2 linked regions of the Homo sapiens genome follow. Each later gene encodes a partner of the first gene's protein in a complex. Each region holds a gene or a part of one and is shown in the gene's direction. Other genes may lie near its edges.

Region 1 (7,510 bases):
AACAGGGTTTCGCCATGTTGGCCAGGCTGGTCTCGAACTCCTGACCTAAAGTGATCTGCCTGCCTCGGCCTCCCAAAATGCTGGGATTACAGGAGTGAGCCATTATGCCCGGCCAAGTCAGGGCTTTTATAGCTAAGATGCCTACTACCTAAAACATTTAAGCAACTTGGCCTCCTGCAAAGAAGGATGGTGAGAAGAATGGCCATTATGCCATCAACTAGGTGGTGACCCAAGAGTACACCATTAATATTCACAAGTGTATCCATGGAGTGGGCTTCAAGAAGTGTGCCCCTCAGGCTCTTAAAGAGACCGGAAATTTGCAATGAAGGAGATAGAAAACTCCAGATATGTGTATTGATACCAGGCTCAACAAAGCTGTCTGGGCCAAAGTAGTAAGGAATGTCCATACTGTGTCCATGTGCAGTGGATGGTCCAGAAAACATAATGAGGTTAGAAATTCACCAAATAAGCTCTATACTTTGGTTATATACTTGTTACCACTTTCACAAATCTACAGTCAGTGTGGATGGGAACTAACTGCTGATCATCAAATACATCAAATGAAGTTATAAAAACTACAAAAAAATAAAAAATAAAAGGTTTAATACTTGTCTTCACTTTACATTCTGTGTGTTCAAAGCATTAAAGTCCTACAGATGTCACATTAAAATGATTAATGGGAATTATTAACCCAAACTGGTTTCCAAATTTATGAAAAACAGTACAGATCACTGAATACGAGGTTGAGATGCTAGCTACTGGATCCAAATTCCTCATCTTTTTTCACGACCTTTTCCCTTATTAATGATGGTTATATTTCTTTGTATTTACCCTCTAGATAACTTGGGGAAATTCTGATGACTCTGTGCTTCTAGTCCCTCCTTTCCTAGAGATATTAATAAAGAACACTGGGACCGGGCATGGTGGCTCATGCCTGTAATCCCAGCACTTTGGGAGGCCAAGGTGGGCAGATCACCTGAGGTCGGGAGTTTGAGACCAGCCTGACCAACATGGAGAAACCCTGTCTCTACTAAAAATACAAAATTAGCTGGGCGTGGTGGCGTGCACCTGTAATCCCAGCTACTTGGGAGGCTGAGGCAGGAGAATCGCTTGAACCTGGGAGGCAGAGGTTGTGGTGAGCTGAGATCGCGCCATTGCACTCCAGCCTGGGCAACGTGAGCAAAACTCTGTCTCTAAAAAAAAAAAAATTCATTAAACATTTACTGTGGCCGGGCACGGCAGCTCAAGGCTGTATTCCCAGCACTTTGGGAGGCTGAGGCAGGCAGATCACCTGAGGTCAGGAGTTCAAGACGAGCCTTGCCAACATGGTGAAACCCCTCTCTACTAAAAATACAAAAATTAACCAGGCATGGTGGTGCATGCCTGTAATCCCGGGTGCTCGGGAAGCTGAGGCAAGAGAATCTCAAACCCAGGAGGCAGAGGTTGCAGTGAGCCGAGATCACGCCACTGCCTCCAGCGTGGGCAACAGAGTGAGACTCCATCTCAAAAAAACAAAACAAAACAAAACAAAACACATTTACTGAATACTCAGTGCCAACCACTGAGAACATGATAAGGAAAAACAGACATGCTGTGGAAGGTGGGTGAGCAGGAGAGGGGCAGAGACTCAACACATCCCTTAAATAGATGTATAAACGCATGTATAAATCAGCCCTTTTGGATATCACGAGAGCCACAGGTAGAGAACCTAAGTATAGCCAGGCACAGTGGCTCACGCCTGTAATCAGCACCTTTGGGAGGCTGAGGTGGGCAGATCACGAGGTCAGGAGATCGAGACCATCTTGGCTACGGTGAAACCTCATCTCTACTAAAAATACAAAAAATTAGCCAGGCGTGGTAGTGGGCACTTGTAGACCCAGCTACTTGGGAGGCTGAGGCAGGAGAATGGCATGAACCCAGGAGGCGGAACTTGCAGTGAGCCAAGATCACGCCACTGCACTCCAGCCTCAGCGACAGAGCGAGACTCTTGTCTCAATTAAAAAAAAAAAAAAAGAACCTAAGTATAAAAGAATGAAGACTTGTGGCTCACGCCTATAATCCCAGCACTTTGGGAGGCCGAGGCGGGTGGACTGTGAGGTCATGAGTTCGAGACCAGCCTGGCCAACATGGTGAAACCCCGTCTCTATTAAAAATACAAAAATTAGCTGGGCGTGGTGGCGGGCGCCTGTAGTCCCAGCTACTCGGGAGGCTGAGGCAAGAGAATCACTTGAAACCGGAAGGTGGAGGTTGCAGTGAGCTGAGATTGCACCACTGTACTCCAGCCTGGGTGGAAGAGTGAAACTCCGTCTCAAAAAAAAAAAAAAAAAAAAAGGAATGGACTTTTTTGGCCAGTGCAGTGACTCATACCTGTAATCCCAGCACTTTGGGAGGCGAAGATGGGCGGATCACTTGAGGCCAGGGGTTCGAGACCAGCCTGGTCAACATGGTGAAACCCTGTCTCTACTAAAAATGCAAAAACTAGCTGAGTGTGGTGGCGGGTGCCTGTAATCCCAGCTACTCCGGAGGCTGAGGCACAAAAATCACTTGAACCTGGAGGGTGGAGGTTGCAGTGAGCCAAGATCATGCCACTGCACTCCAGCCTGGGTGATGGGGCAGGACTCCACCTCAAAAAAAAAAAAAAACTTTCTTGAGGAAGTGGGAGGCTGAGGCAGGAGGATTGCTTGAGACCAGGAGTTTGAGACCATATGGGGCAACATGGCAAGACCCCGTTTCTACAAAAATTTTAAGTATTAGCCAGGTGTGGTGGTGCACACCTATAGTCCCAGCTATTTGGGAGGCTGAGGCAGGAGGATCTCTTGAGTCTAGAAGTTTGCGACCAGCCTGGGCAACATAGTGAGACCCCGTCCCAAAGGAAAAAGAAAATTGCAAAGTAGAGAAGACATTTGAAAGAATCAAACACGGCCAGGTGCTGTGGCTCATGCCTGTAATCCCAGTACTTTAGGAGGCTGAGATGGGTGGATCACCTTTGCTCAGGAGTCCAGACAAGCCTGGGGAACATGGCAAAATCCCGTCTCTATCAAAAATACAAAAAATTAGCCAGGCCAAGTGGCACGCGCCTGTGGTCCTGTACTTGGGAGGCTGAGATGGGAGGCTCTCTTGAGTCTGGGAGGTGGACATTACAATGAGCTGAGATCATGCCACTGCACTCTAACCTGGGTGATAGAGTGAGACTCCATCTCAAAAACAAATAAAATAAAAATTCAAGGCAGGAATAAAACAGTAACTACATAATGAGCTCACATTTTAATAAAAGAGATATAACAAATGAACAAAAGTCCATTAAAATGTTAGGGAAAAAACCCAATAGGATGAGTTACTAACTAGAAGGGGAGAAGGGATTTGGAGTGGTTAGGAGAGCCCTTTCTGAGAAGATAAGCTGAGACCTGTGCCAAGAGGGAGGCAGCCATGCAAATACTGAGAGGAAGGAAAAAAACGAAGGGCCAGTGCAGAGATCTAGAGAGGAAAAGAACTTGTCTTGCTGGAGAAGCAGTCAAGGTAGCCAAGGAGAGTACTGAGAAGAGTACGTTGGAGTGAGTAGGTAGGGACTCTATGGAGTAGGGCCTTAAAGGCGATGATTAGGCCAGGCGCGGTGGCTCACACCTGTAATCCCAGCACTTTGGGAGGCCGAGGCGGGTGGATCACGGTCAGGAGTTCAAGACCAACCTGGCCAAGATGGTGAAACCACGTCTCTACTAAAAATACAAAAAAAATAAGCCGGGCCTGGTGGCAGTCGCCTGTAATCCCAGCTACTCGGGAGGCTGAGGCAGAGAATTGCTTGAACACGGGAGGCGGAGGTTGCAGTGAGCCGAGATCGAGCCACTGCACTCCAGCCTAGGCAACACAGCGAGACTCCGTCTCAAAAAAAAAAAAACAAAACAAACAAACAAAAAAAAAAACAAAGGCAGTGATTAGCAGTTCGGGTTTTGTTTCCACTTACACTAGCGAGAGCATCAGTAATGAACAAGGGGAAGAGTGAAGCCACTGACTCGCGAGGTGACTGTGGGCAAGTTCCTGAATCTTGCTAACACTCTTTAACCCCCTGGAAAACTGTTCGCTAATCGTCACATTAAACGGCTGCGAACGGGCCACGGTCAAGGCTTCGGGGCTGCAGCCGCGAGTTTACCTGTCCTCCAGGACCGATTCCATGGGCTCCACCCCGTCTGTGTCCACGGCGCGTAGCCGGTCGGCGAAGGCGATAGCTTTCTCCAGTCGCGCCACTGCCTCGCGGCTGCCGAAGTCCACAAGCGCTAGACGCTCCAGGTGCTCGATCACCGCAGCCGTGATCCGGCCACTGCCCTGGAGGAGGGATGAGGCGGGGAGTGTGGGTCACCGGCGCTCCGAAGTGCCTCCCGGCTTGCTCCGCCACCCGCCTAGATGGCCCTGGCCTTTACCTGAGGATCCGCCTTGGAGGTGAAGCCCTGGCGCCCGCCCAGAGGGGCCCGAAGGCCCAGCCACACCAACCGCGACCACATTTCTTCCTTCCTTGGCCCCCGCAGTGCGCCCGCGCGTAACGCCGAGCGACGCGCCTGAGAGTGATGACATCAGAGTGCGCCGTCGTCGCCGCCGCCACCACTGTCGCCATGAACAGTGTGGGGGAGGCATGCACGGACATGAAGCGCGAGTACGACCAGTGCTTCAATCGCTGGTTCGCCGAGAAATTTCTCAAGGGGGACAGCTCCGGGGACCCGTGCACCGACCTCTTCAAGCGCTACCAGCAGTGTGTTCAGGTGAGCCCTCCCGCCTCTGTTCCCAGGCCCTGCATTCTCGGCGCTGTGTCCCACCACACTCATCGTATTTTACGGGGATTGGGACTGGACTGGAAGGGTGGAGAAAAGTCGCAGTGAGGCCAGTGGCAGGAGCTCGCTCCCCTACCATCACCACCGAGGCCACTTGGGTGTCTCTCCGAATGACAAATATTGGGGCAGTGCTTTTCAAGAAGCACAGTCACATCCTTTGGTTCATTTGGTGTTCACCCTAAACTCGCAAGGTGGGCATAGTTACTCATATTTTATACATAAAAAACTAACACCCAGAAATAGGAAGTGATTAATCCGAGTTCACTAGCATCAGGTTTCCTTGGTTCTTTCGCAGGTGGTGCACTTTTCCACTATTACTGCTGGGGTCTGGGCGGGATTATACTTCAGAATTCAGACTGGAGGGTCACATTTTTTTGTTGTTATAAACCCTTCGTTAGCCTGTTTCTCTCTCTTGACCAGTCCCCGCAACTGCAGCCAGGAAATGTTTATTCTGGCCCAATGGATGTGGAACTGCTTTGAATTGTTAAGAACAGCACCGGGCAAAGCACTTCCAATAAGTTAACCCAACACATCCTCACAGCAATTCCCCGAGGTAGTTGCTGTCTTCATCCCATTTACAGTTAGTCACATAGCCAGTAAGTCCTGGAACCCAGATTTGAACCTAAGTCTTTCACTAACACAAAGTGATGATTATTTTTCAAATTTCACTTAATTTTAACGGTTCCCTCACAACTCCTTTTCCAGTCTCCCTCAGGTCTTACACTTGATTTATTCATTATGGTACTTCTGGTTTTTATTTATTTTTGAGGCAGAGTCTCACTCTGTCTCCCAGCCTGGAGTGCAATGGCACAATCTCAGCTCACTGCAACCTCCGCCTCCCAGGTTCAAGCTATTCTCATGCCTCAGCCACCCGAGTAGCTGGGCTTACAGGCATGCGCCACCATGCCCAGCTAATTTTTGTATTTTTAGTATAAACAGGGTCTCGCCATGTTGGCCAGGTTGGTCTCTAACTTCTGGCCTCAAGTGATCCACCTGCCTTGGTCTCCCAAAATGCTGCGATTATAGGCGTGAGCCACCACACCTGACCGGTACTTGTTTTTTAAAAAGTATGTGGTTTGAATCATGGTTATAAGTCTTTATAATCAGCTTGATTTTACTTTTGTACTGTCATATTTTATTTACAAAGCTTGCAACTTAAGCTTCATGTAGGTCTTTATAATGTGTTTTCTCCTCCTACCAGAAAGCAATAAAGGAGAAAGAGATTCCTATTGAAGGACTGGAGTTCATGGGCCATGGCAAAGAAAAGCCTGAAAATTCTTCTTGACCTTGACAGTCACCTTGAAGGATTTCGCAAGTCCAGAAATTGAGGACTCTGGATTTTTGTCAACTAACTCTGTGAACATAGCCATCAGATTTGATGAGGAACTTAGGAGAGAGGAGTTTTATTTCCTCCTTCGATGTTTTCCTCTCAGTTGTAAAAGATGAACTCTTTGAGATGATTTCTCACCTGCTGTGGTATCTTGCAGGAACTGTGTGCTAAAATTGAACAATTTTTTTGAGATTATGGTTGCAATACTTGGCGTGGAATCAGCTTTACATAAATATACCTTGTATGCAAACGATGATAAACTAGTCAGGATGAGCAGAGCTGCCTGACCTCTTGATTTCTGCTGCAAAAGACATATACACTGTACTGGGGTCACTATTTATGAAAGCAATTGGTTAGGACCTCTTTTTTTCCTCTCAGGGAACTAATGCTCTGAAAAGGGATCTGGGCACAACAGTTTCAGTGAGTGCTTTTGAGCACACTTTTATTTTTATATAGTAACTAATGGTTAAGATTGATGGTGGCCTGGATTAGCAAAGAGGAAGACAGCTTTTAACACAGTTCCCTGCCTTCACAAGAGGTGTCAGATTAAGATGTGAAAGCTGCAAGAATGTTGCAGTGAACACCATTTCAGAGCTCTCAGTGTGCAGTTCAGGAATTAAGATACTTGGAATAGCTGTGGAGGAAGAACCTAAATTGCAAAGATCTGCTATTGCCAGCTCTCAACCCAAGTCAGTGAATTGTCAACCTGCATATCCTAAAAATGTCAAAATGCTGCATCTGGTTAAATGTCGGGGTAGGGGGGAAGCTGAAGGTGCTCGCTTCATTTGCCTTGTTTACTCATCCTGCCCTGTAATGTCTGTAATCCTGAAGATGGAATAAATTGTAACATTTAGTTTCTATCATTATTTGCCTCTGGAACTCAGTGCATTTTATGGAACTATTACCCTGTTACCCTACAAACCTCATATATACAGTGGGGAGAGTTTTGTGTTTTGTAACTTAAAGGTGAAGAAAAAGTGACTTGTCTTAAGCTAGGTGGTACAGTATGGCAATCAGAAACCTCACATTTTTTTTTTTTGAGACAGTCTGGTTCTGTCACCCAGGCTGGAGTGCAGTGGCGCAATCTTGTCTTACTGCAAACTCCACCTCCTGGGTTCCAATGATTCTCCTGCCTCAGTCTCCCAAGTAGCTGGGATTACAGGCATGCATCACCATGCCCAGCTAGTTTTTGTATTTTTAGTAGAGATGGGGTTTCACCATGTTGGCTGGTCTTGAACTCTTGACCTCCCGAAGTGCTGGGATTACAGGCATGAGCCACCGCACCCAGCCAAAACCTCACTGATTTCTAAAATTTCCACAATAGGCTATACAAATACACTACGGTACCAAAAAAGGATCAGGA
Region 2 (7,670 bases), on another chromosome or scaffold:
TGAAATAAGAATAGATCATTGTTTTGTACACACACACAATAAAATGTAATGATGGTGCTAATTTCACGGTATAAATAAGCACTGCCAAGGGTTGAGGGACTGGCAGCTCAAGAAACCCGGGTTCCTGTTTGGGAGGAGATTTTATGTAGAAAAGTTTGAGGCTTTGTTAAAAGTGGGGAGAAGGAAGATCCTCAGTGAAGCCTGCACCCAACCCTGGAGTGGCCCAGTGCAATCCAGAGGTGGAAGAGATCCTATATCCAGGTGAAGGTGGCCATTGAGTTTCTCAGGGCTGGGGCCACCTTGTCCATAGCCTCCGTCCACGCTGCCTGGAGCAGGTTGTTAGAGAGCTCTGGTTGTTGGGTCTTCCTCAGCTCCCTTCTGCCCCTCTCTACCTCTTCCACTCATGGAAGCCCCTCTACTGCTTATGAAGATTAAGGGTAGTATTTTCTAAGGAAGTGGAAAGAATTAAACTAGAAATCCACAACCTCGGAAGAAGTGTTTCGAGTTTAACATGCGCTGTTTCTGCTTATGTGGTTCCTTCTCTAGAGCTGCTTTCCCATGGCTTTCAAAACATCAGGTTATTGTGGGGCTTCAGGTGTAAGGTCCTGGAAGTTCAGCAAAGTTTCGTGGACAAGACATGGGCACAGAGAGTAGAAGCAGAAATAAATGGTTCTATGTTTTCAACTTCCAGGGTTGGGGCAGGCCAGAGCAAGGCGGTCTCATCGAGGTGGGTGCTACCTGTGTGTGTGTAGATGAGTGTGCTGAAGGTGGGGAGGGCAGCACACAGCAGCTCATGGCAGAGCCGCCTCCTAGGTCTTGGCAAAGAGGCAAGCTGACGATAGACATCTACCTATATTGTTAAGAAAGGGGTCGGGGGGATCAGCCAAGGTCCATCATTGCTTTTTTGCCGCGCCCCCCCCCCCCCGCCCCCATAGATTGTCAGCTGTAAGTGAAACTCCTAGTGAAAAAGAGGGGAGCCCTGTGTTAGGAGTCCCCATAAACATGTACTGTAATTCTTTGTATATAGAAAAAAAATTTACTGTAAAGTAAAGTTTAACTTTACTCATATATGGCCCTTGCCCTGTGTTTTGTTTTATTGGCTGTGGGGAGTTGTAGTCTAACAGGAGGGAGGATTGTTTGGGGTGAGAGCAGAAGCCAGCCCCAGAGATAGTACGAGGTGGGGGGCGGGGGGCGCAGGGATACTGTGAAGCTAAGCCCTTCCTCCAAGCACGTCATGGGAATAGTGTGTTTCCTCTCAGCAGCCACAGGGCTGCCCAAGCCTCTTTCTCCCTCTGTTGGGAGTGGCTGGTTTCAGTTTCAGTCTCCCTCCACAGGAAGCCCCCATCACTCATGAAGGAAGGGCAGTTTGAGGAATTGGTTTTTAAAAAGGAAGTGGAACCAAAGCACTCTCTGAGTGTGAGTCTGACCATGTTGGCTAAGTTGTACATTTTTCCAAGGCAGGTGTTGGCCACTGCAGAGGACTCAGCCCAGGCCTAAATAAAGGCAGGAAAGCAGAGGCAAAGGATAAAACTAAGGGAAAGCCCCTGGCCTGGGGCCACACCCTCCATACCAGAAAGGGCTGCAATAAATTTCCTTCTGGTTGAGCAGCAAGTGTCAGCCCTGTTTACAGTTAACACCTGATTCCTCAGAAATATCTGGATCTTCTTTGGGGAAAACTTGGGAGTTTGCTTCCCTTTGTGACCTAGTCCTGAACTTCCTGCCCTTTCAGCAAAAAGTGCTTGGGAAGATTGGGAAAAACATTTAGTACTAGAGTTACTCTTCACTTTCTTCACAATCCTTGGGCTGCATAGTAGTCACCTTATTTTACAGATGAGAAACTCAAGATGAGGATTTAAGTCCCTTTTCTAAATTAGCAGCTGAATTGGAACCAAATCTGGATCCATTAGACCTTTCTGGCTTACAGAACTTAGGACTTTCCTACCATTAAACCACATTGTAGGATGTCACTGGGAAGCTCAGGACCTGAGTCACAGGTCTGACATAGGGGCCCAAACATGACAGATGCAGTAGAGCTAGTCAGACCAACCTGTCTCAGGTAGGAATGCTTGACCCTTTTATTTCGAAGCAACTCATGCACTCTTTTCAGCACTCAGAAGGAACTGTGAGCTTTTATACTACTACAGCCCCAGTATCTCAGCGGTAACCATGGGGAAAAAAGTCTTGTTTTCCAAAGGAAAATGAGAGTTGGGAGGAGCCTTAATATAAGCAGTGAGGCCAGCCGGGTGGCCCCAGGAAGAACTAGGTGTCTTGACACCTAATCCACACAGCAGGGAAAGGGGCTGGGTGTGATGCACAGTGCACTGATTTTATTTACAGATCAAAAGCCACTTAAATAATCTGCAGACACAAGTGCTGTCCAGGGCAGAAGCCTGGGGTCCAAATCAGCCTTATCCCTCCTCATGCCCACAGTCAGCCCAATGCTGTCTCCGTTCCATGGGCCAGCACAGGCAGGCGCCACTCTGCTGACATGAGGACCTGGGGTAGCTCAGACATTTGACTACCCAAGCCCAGAAAGGAGCTGGGTCCAGCCCTTACGGGGAATTCCTTTAATTCCCCCAGGCCAGGTGAGTGCTGACTCAGTGATGACAACAGCTGTAGAAGTAGGGGTTTGGCTTCTGGCCCAGATCCACGCCCTTGTCCTCTGTCAAAAAGAGAGGTGGCAGCTCAGCACCATTCTGTTGGGATCAGGTAACTCAGGAAAGGGGCTAGATGCTGTGGGCCTAGAGTAAGTCTCCATAAAGGCTGGGGAAGCACACACCTGTCATCACCTGGAAGGCAGCCACACTGACGTAATCCTCTGCCACTTTCTGGAAGAGCTCGTCTGGCAGGAAAAATGATGATCAGCGAGGGCCCAATGCCAGTAGCCCTGGGATCTCCCAGTGACCCAGCCCTCTGTGCCCTATTCAGCTTCCTCTGGTGCCCCTGCATGTTCCTGCTGTGAGGCTCCAGCACAGCACTCACCCACACTCTGGCCTGTCTTGCTGGATGTTTCAAAGAGCTGAGCTTTGATATCTGTAAAGAGAAGTGACTAAAGCCTCATACCTGAGAATTAGATAAACAGACAAAAGGGAGGGCTAGCAGTTCAGGGAGTCTCCTGGACCCCACAGTTCAAGGAGGCCAGGAAGACCTCCTAGAGCACCTTGCCCTGGCAGCCAAGGCAGTCCCTATTTTCTTTGATCCACCCAGACAGCCACACACCCCCACCCCCCAAAGGGCTGAGGAGCAGCTACTGTCTGCATAGTCCTGGACGTCGTGGAAGTCCACACGTCGACGCCTCCGGTCTTCTTCCAGCAGGTCACTCTTGGTGCCACATAAGTAGATTTGGCAGCCCTGAGGCAGAAGACAAGGGTCACCTCCACAGGCCAACAAAACCCCAGCCCCTAGTGTTCTAGTGAGGTCTGTTCACCTACCTCCTCTAGGCTGCGCAGTTCCTTCACCCAGAACTTTGCTCGCTCAAAGCTGCTGCTGTCTGTGAGGTCTTGGTGTGCGGCATGCAGGAGACAACCAAGTGGTCAAGGGCTGTTCTCTGGCTAGCCTGGCACCCATCTTTTCTTGTGAGACAGCCCAAACCCCCCCCCCCCTTACCATAGCAGACGATGGCAGCCTTGGCACCCCGATAGTAGATTCTACTCATGGCCTCATAGCGCTCAGAGCCTGCTGTGTCCTAAAGAGTAAGGCCTGAGTCAAACTTAAGGCCACGTTCTCCAGACCCCGCTATTTTCCAGATAAGGAAACGGGTCTATGAGAAATGGGTCTGTGAGGCCACAAATCAACCAGTAATAGGCAGGACCTACACCTCCTCAGGAATGAGTCTCCCAAGAATAGATGGCCGGGGGACTTACCCAAATACCTAATGTCACAGTCCGGTCTCCGACCGACATCACCTTGGCCACGAAGGCGGCCCCGATGGTCTGCAACGAGAGGGAAGAGATCGGGGCCATAGGTGCAGATTACCGGCCCCCCACTCCCCCGCCCACCGTGCCTGGCCCCTCCGGATGCACTCACGTTCTGATAAGGCCCCACCAGAAAGCGGTCGTGCACGTAGCGCTCCACCAGGCTAGTCTTGCCCACGTACTCCTTGCCCAGCATCACCACCTTGACGTCCACGCGCTGCCCGCTCATGCTCCCGGGGCCGCTTCAGCCACGTCAGGGTCCTGAGCGGGGACGGGAGGCAAACCCCGATCTCCGCTCGGCCCAGGCAGCGCCCAAGCCTCAGACCCCGACCCCAAACGGCGCCAACCTACGACTCCAGACAGCGCGTCGGGCTCGAGCTCTGGCCGTGGCCTTGCACTTCGGCAGCGCCCCGTGTGCCCCCGCTGTTCGGCCCCGGGCGCCGATTATCCTTCGAAGACCCCAAGCCTCGGGGCGGCCTGGGAGCGCGCGGGACAGCGTCCTCAACAGCGCAGCACGCCGCCGTGCAGCTCGCTACTCCGTCATTCGCTCGCCTGCCCGGCTTAAGCTCCGTTCTGGCTGGGAATCCCAACCGAACCTGGGGTCTCCCGCAACCCGGCTCCTACCCGCAGCGCCGCGACTCCCGCGGGAGGGGGCTAGAGGGCGAGGGGGCGGGGCCGCAAGGTCACGTGGCGCGGGCGCCGGAAGCGGTGGCTACTGTGTGGCTGCGCCGGAAGTGGCGCGCGGCCGGACAACTCATGGCGGCGGCGGCGGCGGCGGCAGCTGCTTGGGCGCGGTGCGGTGGTGACTGAGCTACGAGCCTGGCGGCGGGTGTGCGCCGAGCCCCGGCCCGGCCCGGCCCTCGCGTGCCTCCCAGGCTCCGCACCCCTGATGCTGCGCGGGTGCTGAGCCCGCTTCGGCCGGGACGATGGTGAAGTATTTCCTGGGCCAGAGCGTGCTCCGGAGTTCCTGGGACCAAGTGTTCGCCGCCTTCTGGCAGCGGTACCCGAATCCCTATAGGTACGTGGTATTTGGAAGAGCAAAACCGCGCCATCTCGCTATCTGGAGATCGAATTATGGGTAACCCCCAAGTACTGGGACCAGGAAGGACTCGATATCGAATCCTAGGTAGACCTTATCGGGGAAGCGGCCAGGCCAGGCCTGCAAGGTCCTGAAGGGAGGTTGGGCCTGGGTGGTGGTTTACTTGAGACCTTAGTGTAAGATTCTTTTCTCAGTGTGGTGAGACAAGAAGAGGCGGCAGTATGGGAGTTGGGAGGGATCTTGGAGTTGGAAATCCTATTTCTCTGCCCGTGGCGCTTTCCTGGGGTGCAATAAATCATGAGGTCCATTCCTGCTAGAAGGCAGGAATCCAGGTCAGTCAGATGGCGGGAGTGGGAATTTGCCCTGGGATGGGCCCTTAACTCTGGTTTGAACCATAGCACATACCACCCTGCAAGGTTACGGGAAGGCGTGGCCTCTCTAGGCCCGGAGCCTCCAAATGGGAATCCCCTCGGGCAGTCTCTTAGGGGCAAGCTTCTGAGGGTCACCTTCACCCTGACACCTGCAGCAAACATGTCTTGACGGAAGACATAGTACACCGGGAGGTGACCCCTGACCAGAAACTGCTGTCCCGGCGACTCCTGACCAAGACCAACAGGATGCCACGCTGGGCCGAGCGACTATTTCCTGCCAATGTTGCTCACTCGGTGTACGTCCTGGAGGACTCTATTGTGGACCCACAGAATCAGACCATGACTACCTTCACCTGGAACATCAACCACGCCCGGCTGATGGTGAGACACCTCCTGTTGTGATTCTGCACCTCCCCCTCTCCCCTCCCCCCGAGATAGAGAGCTCCTCAGATACATGTGGCTAGAGAGCCATAAGGCAGCTTTTGTGGCCGGAGGCAGGTCTGGGTTACTGAGGGTTGACAGCTGTAGAGTATGACCTCAGGTTTTCTTCTTTTCAGCTGGCCATCCTCTCTGGACCTGTCCTTTGACTCATTCATACAGTGGGGGAGGGGTACCTATCTTACGGAGTTGTCCTAAGTTCTAAATGCAAAGCGCTCCCATCTGGCATCTATGGCACAGATATATGTTGGACTCACAGGAGTGATGCTGAGTGGCGGAGGCAGTGCTTTTCTTTTTTTTTTTTCTGTTTTTTGTTTTTTTCTGGTGACAAGAGTCTCACCCAGGTTGGAGTGTAGTGACATGATCTCACCTCACTGCCACTGCCACCTCCTGGGTTTAAGCAATTCTCGTGCCTCAGCCTTCTGAAGAGGTGGATTTCTAAGCACACACCACCACGCCTGGCTAATTTTTGTATTTTTAGTACAGACAAGGTTTTACCATGTTGGCCAGGCTGGTCTCGAACTCCTAACCTCAAGTGATCCGCCCGCCTCGGCCTCCCAAAGTGCTAAGATTACAGGCGTGAGCCACCGCGCCGGGCAAATGTTTTTATTTGGACTGTCAGGAAGCTCCAGAGCTGCAGCTGGTGGAAGGCGGCTAAAACACTGCATGCGTCTAGATGCACAAAACAAAATCCAGGAGCAGGATGGGCTGGAAGGCCCTTTGTTGATCTCAAGAGAGAGACCTTTTGCCTTCTAGTTTAAGAGTCAGAAGAGAGGTTTTCGAGAGCAAAACGACCTTATTTATGGCTTCTTGTTCTGTCAGTGCCACTTGGAGGTGCAGTCAGGGGAAGGAATGGATTTTCATTGTATTGCTTCGCCTCATGAAAAGTGACAGGGAGTCAGATTTATGTGCAAGTTGGCAAAATGAAAGACTGTTCCACGATTGTGGTTGGCCTCTGCATAGGTGGTGGAGGAACGATGTGTTTACTGTGTGAACTCTGACAACAGTGGCTGGACTGAAATCCGCCGGGAAGCCTGGGTCTCCTCTAGCTTATTTGGTGTCTCCAGAGCTGTCCAGGTGAGCAGTGTTGTTGGGGCTGCTGGGGCTCTGGGACCCAGTGCTTTCGGTGTTGGGGCTGGGCTGGGGTCAGTGGGCAACTCAGTATCCTTCCCATTCTCATCTCATGCCAGGAATTTGGTCTTGCCCGATTCAAAAGCAACGTGACCAAGACTATGAAGGGTTTTGAATATATCTTGGCTAAGCTGCAAGGTGAGTTTCTGGGTATGTGGATATTCCTCATAGGGAGAGGCTCATTCAGCCTAGCGGGCGTGGAGTCTGGGTTAGTCATTGCCCTGCTCTGAGCTGGGACTCCTTGTCTGTACTGGGGGTGGGAGGAGGGTGAATACCACCTTTTTAGTGGAGCCTGGCCCAGAGGAGATTGGTGTCATGGGGGAGGGAAATTAGGTTGGTCTTTCAGGCATCTTCTAAAGGCAGCCACCTGCCGTTCGCGACAGGCGAGGCCCCTTCCAAAACACTTGTTGAGACAGCCAAGGAAGCCAAGGAGAAGGCAAAGGAGACGGCACTGGCAGCTACAGAGAAGGCCAAGGACCTCGCCAGCAAGGCGGCCACCAAGAAGCAGCAGCAGCAGCAACAGTTTGTGTAGCCAGTCTACCACCACCACAGCACCCCAGACAGCTAGGCTTAGCCTCTCTGCCCTCCCTTCATTGTACTTTATCATTAAAAATCAACTTCCAGCCCTGTCTGCTGTCTACGTGGTGGGTTGTGGGGATGCAGTTTGGCATCTGCAGTACACCAAGCACATGATTCATGTCTGAGCCAGGTCTGCTTATTCTCCCATTGGGCAGCTGAGGACCGAGGCACAGAGGTGCGGTGACTTGCCCGGGGCTC

The links.
Region 2: the proteins of TRIAP1 (region 1) and PRELID1 are in contact, whole or in part, in a crystal structure (PDB 6I3V), measured with the Homo sapiens proteins. Residues at the interface, in NP_057483.1 of Homo sapiens: Met1 (codon at 4,602), Asn2 (codon at 4,605), Ser3 (codon at 4,608), Val4 (codon at 4,611), Lys12 (codon at 4,635), Tyr15 (codon at 4,644), Asp16 (codon at 4,647), Phe19 (codon at 4,656), Asn20 (codon at 4,659), Trp22 (codon at 4,665), Phe23 (codon at 4,668), Phe27 (codon at 4,680), Leu28 (codon at 4,683), Gly30 (codon at 4,689), Asp31 (codon at 4,692), Ser32 (codon at 4,695), Phe41 (codon at 4,722), Tyr44 (codon at 4,731), Gln45 (codon at 4,734), Val48 (codon at 4,743), Gln49 (codon at 4,746), Ile52 (codon at 6,025), Ile57 (codon at 6,040), Pro58 (codon at 6,043), Ile59 (codon at 6,046), Leu62 (codon at 6,055), Glu63 (codon at 6,058), Phe64 (codon at 6,061), Met65 (codon at 6,064), Gly66 (codon at 6,067); in NP_037369.1 of Homo sapiens: Trp15 (codon at 4,883), Asp16 (codon at 4,886), Phe19 (codon at 4,895), Ala20 (codon at 4,898), Trp23 (codon at 4,907), Gln24 (codon at 4,910), Tyr26 (codon at 4,916), Pro27 (codon at 4,919), Val34 (codon at 5,487), Leu35 (codon at 5,490), Thr36 (codon at 5,493), Glu37 (codon at 5,496), Asp38 (codon at 5,499), Ile39 (codon at 5,502), Val40 (codon at 5,505), His41 (codon at 5,508), Arg42 (codon at 5,511), Val44 (codon at 5,517), Gln48 (codon at 5,529), Lys49 (codon at 5,532), Leu50 (codon at 5,535), Leu51 (codon at 5,538), Ser52 (codon at 5,541), Arg53 (codon at 5,544), Leu55 (codon at 5,550), Thr57 (codon at 5,556), Tyr79 (codon at 5,622), Leu81 (codon at 5,628), Asp83 (codon at 5,634), Ser84 (codon at 5,637).

The regions. Positions count from the first base shown.
Region 1 is NC_000012.12:120,443,464-120,450,973, reverse strand, and holds TRIAP1 (TP53-regulated inhibitor of apoptosis 1), read left to right. Parts: upstream 1-4,589; 5' UTR 4,590-4,601; coding exon 4,602-4,748; intron 4,749-6,018; coding exon 6,019-6,102; 3' UTR 6,103-7,010; downstream 7,011-7,510. Other genes in the region: GATC (glutamyl-tRNA(Gln) amidotransferase subunit C, mitochondrial), read right to left, coding at 4,145-4,317, 4,413-4,493. UniProt on the Homo sapiens protein: Involved in the modulation of the mitochondrial apoptotic pathway by ensuring the accumulation of cardiolipin (CL) in mitochondrial membranes.
Region 2 is NC_000005.10:177,299,146-177,306,815, forward strand, and holds the start of PRELID1 (PRELI domain-containing protein 1, mitochondrial isoform 1 precursor), read left to right. Parts: upstream 1-4,653; 5' UTR 4,654-4,840; coding exon 4,841-4,932; intron 4,933-5,479; coding exon 5,480-5,705; intron 5,706-6,353; exon of another isoform or gene 6,354-6,725; coding exon 6,726-6,839; exon of another isoform or gene 6,840-6,952; coding exon 6,953-7,031; exon of another isoform or gene 7,032-7,276; coding exon 7,277-7,425; 3' UTR 7,426-7,670. Other genes in the region: RAB24 (ras-related protein Rab-24), read right to left, coding at 2,598-2,662, 2,780-2,842, 2,983-3,033, 3,252-3,351, 3,432-3,499, 3,607-3,685, 3,864-3,932, 4,027-4,143. UniProt on the Homo sapiens protein: Involved in the modulation of the mitochondrial apoptotic pathway by ensuring the accumulation of cardiolipin (CL) in mitochondrial membranes.